Homo sapiens: one gene and its partner. The protein of the gene in region 2 purifies or fractionates together with the protein of the main gene of each other region. This does not show direct contact. Each region holds a gene or a part of one and is shown on either strand. Other genes may lie near its edges.

The links.
Region 1: the proteins of GZMK (region 2) and IGSF21 purify together in Homo sapiens (affinity purification with mass spectrometry; one large-scale study listed by BioGRID and IntAct). This does not show direct contact.

The regions. Positions count from the first base shown.
Region 1 is NC_000001.11:18,369,524-18,373,356, forward strand, and holds part of IGSF21 (immunoglobulin superfamily member 21 precursor), read left to right. Parts: intron 1-3,833. UniProt on the Homo sapiens protein: Involved in synaptic inhibition in the brain. Selectively regulates inhibitory presynaptic differentiation through interacting with presynaptic NRXN2.
Region 2 is NC_000005.10:55,030,756-55,034,588, forward strand, and holds the end of GZMK (granzyme K precursor), read left to right. Parts: intron 1-608; coding exon 609-878; intron 879-3,009; coding exon 3,010-3,171; 3' UTR 3,172-3,815; downstream 3,816-3,833.

The DNA of each region.
Region 1 (3,833 bases), on a different chromosome or scaffold from region 2:
GCTGTGGTGAGACGTCACTGAGCCAGGGGATATGACCAGTGGAATGTGCCATGAGCCAAAGAGTCGTGAGTGTATGCACCTTGCACCATCAGGGCACCCTGCACTCTGGGTGAGACAGTGGGACGGATTAGATGACCTCAGAGCACAAAATCCAATCATTCAACAAGGATTTTGAAGATCAGGCCAACGAGGGTGGGATGTGTCTCCCTGCAATGAGCCTTCGCTCCTCCTCTTCCCTTGCAGGGATGCCCTCCGCAGCTGAAATGCCACCCCTCCAGGAAGATTTCTCTGACTCTCCCCCAACCCTTTGAGCTGTTTGTGCCTCTTCTCAGTTCTTGTCTCACCAGATTTGTACCTTTCTCGTAATCTGGACCACAGATGCCTGAGCGTCCTGGCACCCATCTCACTAAATGGCAACCATGTCCTTCCCATTGATCAAACCAGAAGCCTTGCAGACCCCTCACCTTTTCCACTCTTCCCTCCTATCCCACATGCAAACCATCATTAAGCCCTGGCAGCTCAACTTCAGAATATATCCCAAATCTGCCACTCCTCACGGTCTCCTCTCCAAATACCCAACCCAAGCACCATCAGTTCAAGCCTGGGTTATTAGAGTAGCCTTCAAACTGATCGTTCTGCTTCCACTTTCACCCTATCCTATTTCCCACCCCGATTGATCTACTTAAAATATAAATCAGATCATGACACCCGCCCAAAACCTTCCTGTGGTAGACAAATAGATTGACAAAACAGGATAGAGTCCAGAAATAGATCTACATACACAGAGTTCATTGATTTTTGCCAAAGACCCCCAAGGCGGTTCAATCAGGAAAGAGAAGTTCTCTTAAAAAATGACCCTGAAACAAATGAATAGGCATAAGGAAAAATTAAACCTGGACCCCTGCCTCGCACACACACAAAAATTAATTTGAAATGAATCATAGATTTAAAAGTAGAAGTCAGCATCATGAAGCCTCTAGAACAAAACATAGCCTTTGTGATATTTGTGTAACAAAGGTTTCTTAAAGTGGTCACAAAATAAAAACTAAATAAAAACTAAATGATAAATTGAATTTGGTAAATTGGACTTAATCAAAAATTAAATCTTCTGCTCTTACAAAGATATCCTTGAGAAAAAAGAAAAGCAAACTATAGAATGAGAGAAAATACTCTCAATACATATATCTGACAAAGCATTTGTAACCAGAATATATAAAGAACTATGACAAATCAATAATGAAAGACTACCCAATTTTTTAAAAAAGAAAATATACAAATGGCTAATAAACATGTAAAAACCTACACTACATTATTAGTTATTAGAGAAATGAAGATTCCAACCTCCATGAGATACCATTTCACATCTATTAGAGTGGCTAAAATTTTAAAAACTGACAATACCAGATGTTGACAAGAAGGTAGAACAATCAGAATTCTCATGCTTTGCTGACTGCAGAATAAAATGGTACTACTACTTTGAAAAACTGGCAGTTTCTTACAAAGATAAAAATATTTCTGTTCTTATGACCCAACGATTTCACTCCTAGGTATTTACCCAAGAGAAATGAAAACATATGTCCACAGCAGCTTTATTCATGGCAACAGCAAAAACAACAGAACTGTAAATAATCTAAATGTCCATAATTAGAAAAATGAATAAACGTATTTGTAGTATATTCATATAACAAAATACTTTTTATCAATACAAATGAATGAACTCATGATACCTGCATTAGCATGGATGGAGCTCAAAAACATGTTGATCAGGCTGGGCACGGTGGCTTACACTTGCAATCTCAGAACTTTGGGAGGCCGAGGCAGGTGGATCACTTGCAGCCGGGAGTTTGAGACCAGCCTGGCCAACATGGTGAAACCTCGGCTCTACTGAAAATACAAAAATTAGCTGGGTATGGTAGCTCATGCCTGTAGGCCCAACTACTTGGGAGGCTGAGGCAGGAGAATCCCTTGAACCTGGGAGGTGGAGGTTGCAGTGAGCTGAGATTGCGCCACTGCACTCCAGCCTAGGCAATAGAGTAAGACTCCATTTCAAAAAAAAAAAAAAATGTTGATCAAAAGAAGCCAGATGACAGAGTACTCACTGTGTGAGTCCATTTATTTGAAATTCTAGAACAAAAAATAAATATCCATTGATAGAAATGGGAACAGTGTTGGCCTATGAAGAATGGAAATTGACTGGAAGGAGGCCTCTGCTCGAGTCCTCTACTCAGAGGGTCCTTCCTTGAACACTCTATCTAAAGCAGCCTCTTCCTCCTGGTTCCTTCCACCCCTTCTCTTGCTTTGTTTTCTTACATAACTCATTTCCACCTACAAGTATATTCTATATTTGCTTATTGTCTGAATCGCCCACAAGGTAGGAATTGAGATTTGGTTTTAGATGTAATGGCAGTCAGGTGAACTGGCTTGAACAATTCATTCTTCATATATGTTTTAACTGTGATAAAATTTACATATTGGGAAATGCAGGTCCTTCAGTGCACAATTTGACAGATTTTAATAAATGTGAATGCTGGTGTAACCACCACCTCAACCAAACTCTGCGCATTCCCATCACCCACTAGAATTTAAATGGCACATGGGCAGGGTCTTCTTTATCCGCCTAGTTCACAGAGTACAGGGCTCAGAACAACCCCAACATAGTTCTTAATAAACAACTGTTTAATAGTTAATTAATTAATGCTTTTCTAGGTTGTTGAGAAGATTAAGTAAGGCAGTGCATACAAAGTGCTTATAGTGACAGGCAGAGGAAATATTCAGGAAATATAAGCTACTGTTATTATTCATCATAGTATCCCCAACAGTGACCGGGAATAGTGACCACCACAAATTAGGTGTACAATAAAGAATTAGATGGATAGAGCAAATGAAGAAATGGATGGGTAAGCAAATTGGTAGGTTTATGGGTAGGCACTTGGATGGATTGTTGGATGTTTGAATAGATGAATGAATAAAATGAATGCTTGGATGGATGGAAGGATGGATGGATGGATGGATGGATGGATGGATGGATGGATGTTTTGATGGATGGATGGATATTTGGATGGATGTTTGGAGGGATGGATGAATGGGTGGATGTTTGGATGGATGGATAGATGGATGGATGGATGGATGGATGTTTGGATGGGTGGATGGAGGGATGGATGGATGAGTGTTTAGATGGGTGGATGGAGGGATGGATGGATGAGTGTTTAGATGGATGAATGGATGGATGGATGAATGGATGTTTGGATAGATGTTTGGAGGGATGGATGAATAGATGGATGTTTGGAAGGATGGATATTTGGATGGATGGATGGATGGATGGATGGATGGATGGATGGATGGGTGGATGGATGGATGGATGGATGGATGAGTGGGTGAATGGGTGAGTGATTGTCTTAGAAAGCATCCAGAATTCCTAGGGGAAACTTAGAGGAGCTTTTCCTTGAGATTCCACAGTACTATCCTTGCATCAGGATGCTCAGGACAGGTAAGGAAGGCAACTTATATGTCCAGGATCTTTTTCATTCCCTGAGCAGATAGACATCACTTTACATTTCACATTGCAGTCTTATCTCCCTCCTCCATTGTCATTTTCAGAGTATTTCCTCAAGCAGGGTGGTAGCCTATTCTCCCCATTTACAAGTTAGAAAACTGAAGCCCAACAAGTTGAAATGACTCATCCAAGTCATGCAGCCAGAAAGTAGAGGGCTAGGTGTCAATCCTGGGTCTCTGGACTCCTGCTCTTTCTCTACGTCCAGGGCTTGAGAGGCAGGAAAGTCCGGAGACTAAGAGCATTCCTTTCGGGCACTCTCAGCCATTGTGGTCTAGAAGCA
Region 2 (3,833 bases):
AAGAATTTATCACAAATGCACCAGGGCTGTGTTTATACAAGGAAAAGCAACTCTGATACTCAACATATGTAGGAGGGGAACATCTTAACAGGCCCAAGGATCCACACTGAAAGCTTTTCTCCCAAATGCTTTTCTCATTAGCAAGTAAAAAAATACAACAGTTGTTTATACAACAGAGCCAACCAAGTGACTTCGGGGGCTCAGCAGTGAGTTACAGCTTAGTCTAGACCACACTTAATTTAGTCCGAACTTGGTCTAGACCATACTCAAGGGTCCTATCCGGCAGGAAGCAGCCCAGCCCTCAAAGTCATGACCTATGGATGTTATTCCACACAAAACCATCCAATGCAGGGCAAAGGCCAGTTTGCTCGAGACTGAACAAATTCCTGCTCTCTATAAGCTCCCGCCCCAAGCCTCAGTGAGCTCCTCGGGGAGTAGAGAGCATGGTCAGAAAAGCAACAACCACAAATGCAGCTGCAGGCCACCACCAAAGTAGATCCCAGAACAGGGACGCCCGCCTAAGACAGAGGGACCACACATACGACGCACAGGCTAGCATCAGAATACTACTGGGAAAGAAATAATTCCATCTTTTTTCAATCTGTCAGCTTCAAACAGCCGCAAAACTCAATAAACATGTCAAGATGCTCCACATAAGATCCAAAACCTCTCTTAGATCTGGAACCAAATGCAAGGTTACTGGCTGGGGAGCCACCGATCCAGATTCATTAAGACCTTCTGACACCCTGCGAGAAGTCACTGTTACTGTCCTAAGTCGAAAACTTTGCAACAGCCAAAGTTACTACAACGGCGACCCTTTTATCACCAAAGACATGGTCTGTGCAGGAGATGCCAAAGGCCAGAAGGATTCCTGTAAGGTAAGAATCTCTCTTTCAAACAGGCATCTTGGAGCGCTGTACAGTAGCCAAGCCTCTATTGCTCACTGACACTGAGGAGGAGGGAGGGGCATGGAGAATACAAAACCACAATTCTAAACACTTTCTCTTCATTCCTGCACAGCATTCTCTATTCTTTTTCATCTACCAATGTGGATGGATTGTAAAAACTTCCCCAATACTTTATAAGCACCCACTAAATGTTTGTTAATCAGGATAATAGACCATATCTGACAACTTTTACAGGCTTCCTATGAGAGGTGTTATCCTCCTTACAAAGTCTACCAACCCTGAAGTCACTAGTGGTGATTAGAAGATAACTTATTTAAAGAACCACCTTGCAGATTAATCAATAAGGAGGCCTTAAAGACTCAAATGCAAAAAGCTCAAATATACAGTATGTGTTTCATAAGTAATGCTGACTGACTGTCTTCGTCTGTTTGGGCTGCTACCACAAAATACCATAAACTCGGTGGCTTATAAATAACAGAACTTTATTCTGTTCAAGATCAAGATCAAGGCACCAGCACATTTGGTGTCTGGGGAGGGCCTACTTTCTGGTTCATAAACAGCTTCTTTTCACTCTAATCTCACATGGTAGATGGGGTGAGGGGTCTCTCTTAGGCCTCTTTAATAAGGGAACTAATCTCATTCATGAAGCCTTCACCTCCATGACCTAATCACTTCCCAAAATCACCACCTCCTAATACTCTCACCTTGGGAGTGAGGATTGCAACATATGAATTCGGAGGAATCAGACTTTCAGACCATACCACTGACTAACAAAAAGGAACAAAAGGCCGGGCATGGTGGCTCACACCTGTAATCCCAGCACTTTGGGAGGCCAAGGTGGATGGATCTGTTGAACTCAGGAGTTTGAGACCAGCCTGGGCGATATGGTGAAAACCCGTTTCTACAAAAAATACAAAAATTAGCCAGGTGTGGTGGCACACGCCTGTAGTCCCACCTACTCAGGAGGCTGAGGGGGGAGGATCACCTGAGCCCAGGAGGTTGAGGCTGAAGTGAGCCGAGATCTTGCCACTGCATTCCAGTCTGGGTGACAAAATGAGACCCTGTCTTAAAAGAAAAAAAGGAACAAGAGTCATTATGTTTTTCAAAATCATTTGTTTATTGAGATGGTAAGGAAAAAAATAGGTGTTCATGTTTGTATGAACTATACTAATATATAGCACAAATGAATTACTAATTTTTTAAAAATTAGAATACAGTATTCATCTCATACTATATTAAGTATAATTGGGGGAGAGGATATGATGACTTCAAATGTCTTGTGCATCTGCAGTACCCAAGACCATCACCCTCCTAAACATCGGTTATCATGGTTGACCAAAGTATAAGGCACTGCAGTTTGCAATGTGAACATTAGCAAAGAGAAAGGCTGGTCTTCAAATGTAGAAGCCAGCTCTTCATCAAAAGGCCATGCCATCCCCTCTATAGCTCTTTCCCTTCACTTGATAGAATTTAGTTACATGCTTTGCTGTTAGAGTGTCTTCAAAAATCATTTCATTCACTAAGTATTTACTAAGTATGGTACATATACATAACACTATGTCCAACCATGTGAGGATGCAAAAAATAAATAAATAACAGAGAACATATAATTCCTGCCATGAAGACATTTACTACAATACATTGCTCTTTTCTGCTAGCCTCAATAACAACTCGATTTTAGGTCTGTGAGCATCAAAATGAAATCTACAATTTTAAAAGATTATTTTATTTCAGTGGATTATTTAAAACTTTATCCATTCTTTAATAAATAGTCAATAGTCATTGATTCCCAGAGGAATGTAGACATAGATAGGGACAAAACAGAGATATAGACATGGACACTGAGACAGAGGCAGAGGCATAGTCATAGTCATAGATAGAGACATAAACAGAGAAGCAAGTAGGCAGAAACATAGTCCTTGACAGAGACAGGCACATGGACAACCTATAACGAGTAAGAGGCAGTGTCAGACACTCTTCTGGACATAAAGAAAGCAAAGACCCAGATGATAATCCCTTGAGCAATCAGCAGTTGGTGGTTAAAAAACAAAAATATCCCAACAGCTTCTTACCACGTATTTGCCCTTTTTCTTCCTTCCAGGGTGACTCAGGGGGCCCCTTGATCTGTAAAGGTGTCTTCCACGCTATAGTCTCTGGAGGTCATGAATGTGGTGTTGCCACAAAGCCTGGAATCTACACCCTGTTAACCAAGAAATACCAGACTTGGATCAAAAGCAACCTTGTCCCGCCTCATACAAATTAAGTTACAAATAATTTTATTGGATGCACTTGCTTCTTTTTTCCTAATATGCTCGCAGGTTAGAGTTGGGTGTAAGTAAAGCAGAGCACATATGGGGTCCATTTTTGCACTTGTAAGTCATTTTATTAAGGAATCAAGTTCTTTTTCACTTGTATCACTGATGTATTTCTACCATGCTGGTTTTATTCTAAATAAAATTTAGAAGACTCTCTGTTTGTCTTTTATCACATGAAGTAATATCTGCCCCCATTGCACCCACACTCGCCAAAGGGCAATAAGGTCACTGAATAAAACAGTAATGGTACCACCTTCAACTAGGTGTAACTTCTGCTGGATCATCCTAAGTTGTTGGGTTGTTTTCTTTTCATTGTTGTGATAACATTGAACATGAGATAGGCCCTTGCAACAAATGTTTAAGGGTATGATACATTATTGTTAACTATAGGCATGATCTTGCAGTGCAGATCTCTAGAACTGCTTCATCTCATATAAATGAAACTTTATGCCAGTTGAATAGCAGCTCTCTATTTCCCCACCACCCCCATCCTCTGGCAACCCCATTCTACTCTAAGCTTCTATGAGTTTGTATTTTTTAAATATAAATCATAAATATAAATATCCTAATTCAAGCAAGCAGCTTATACAAATATTTGGACAGTATTTCT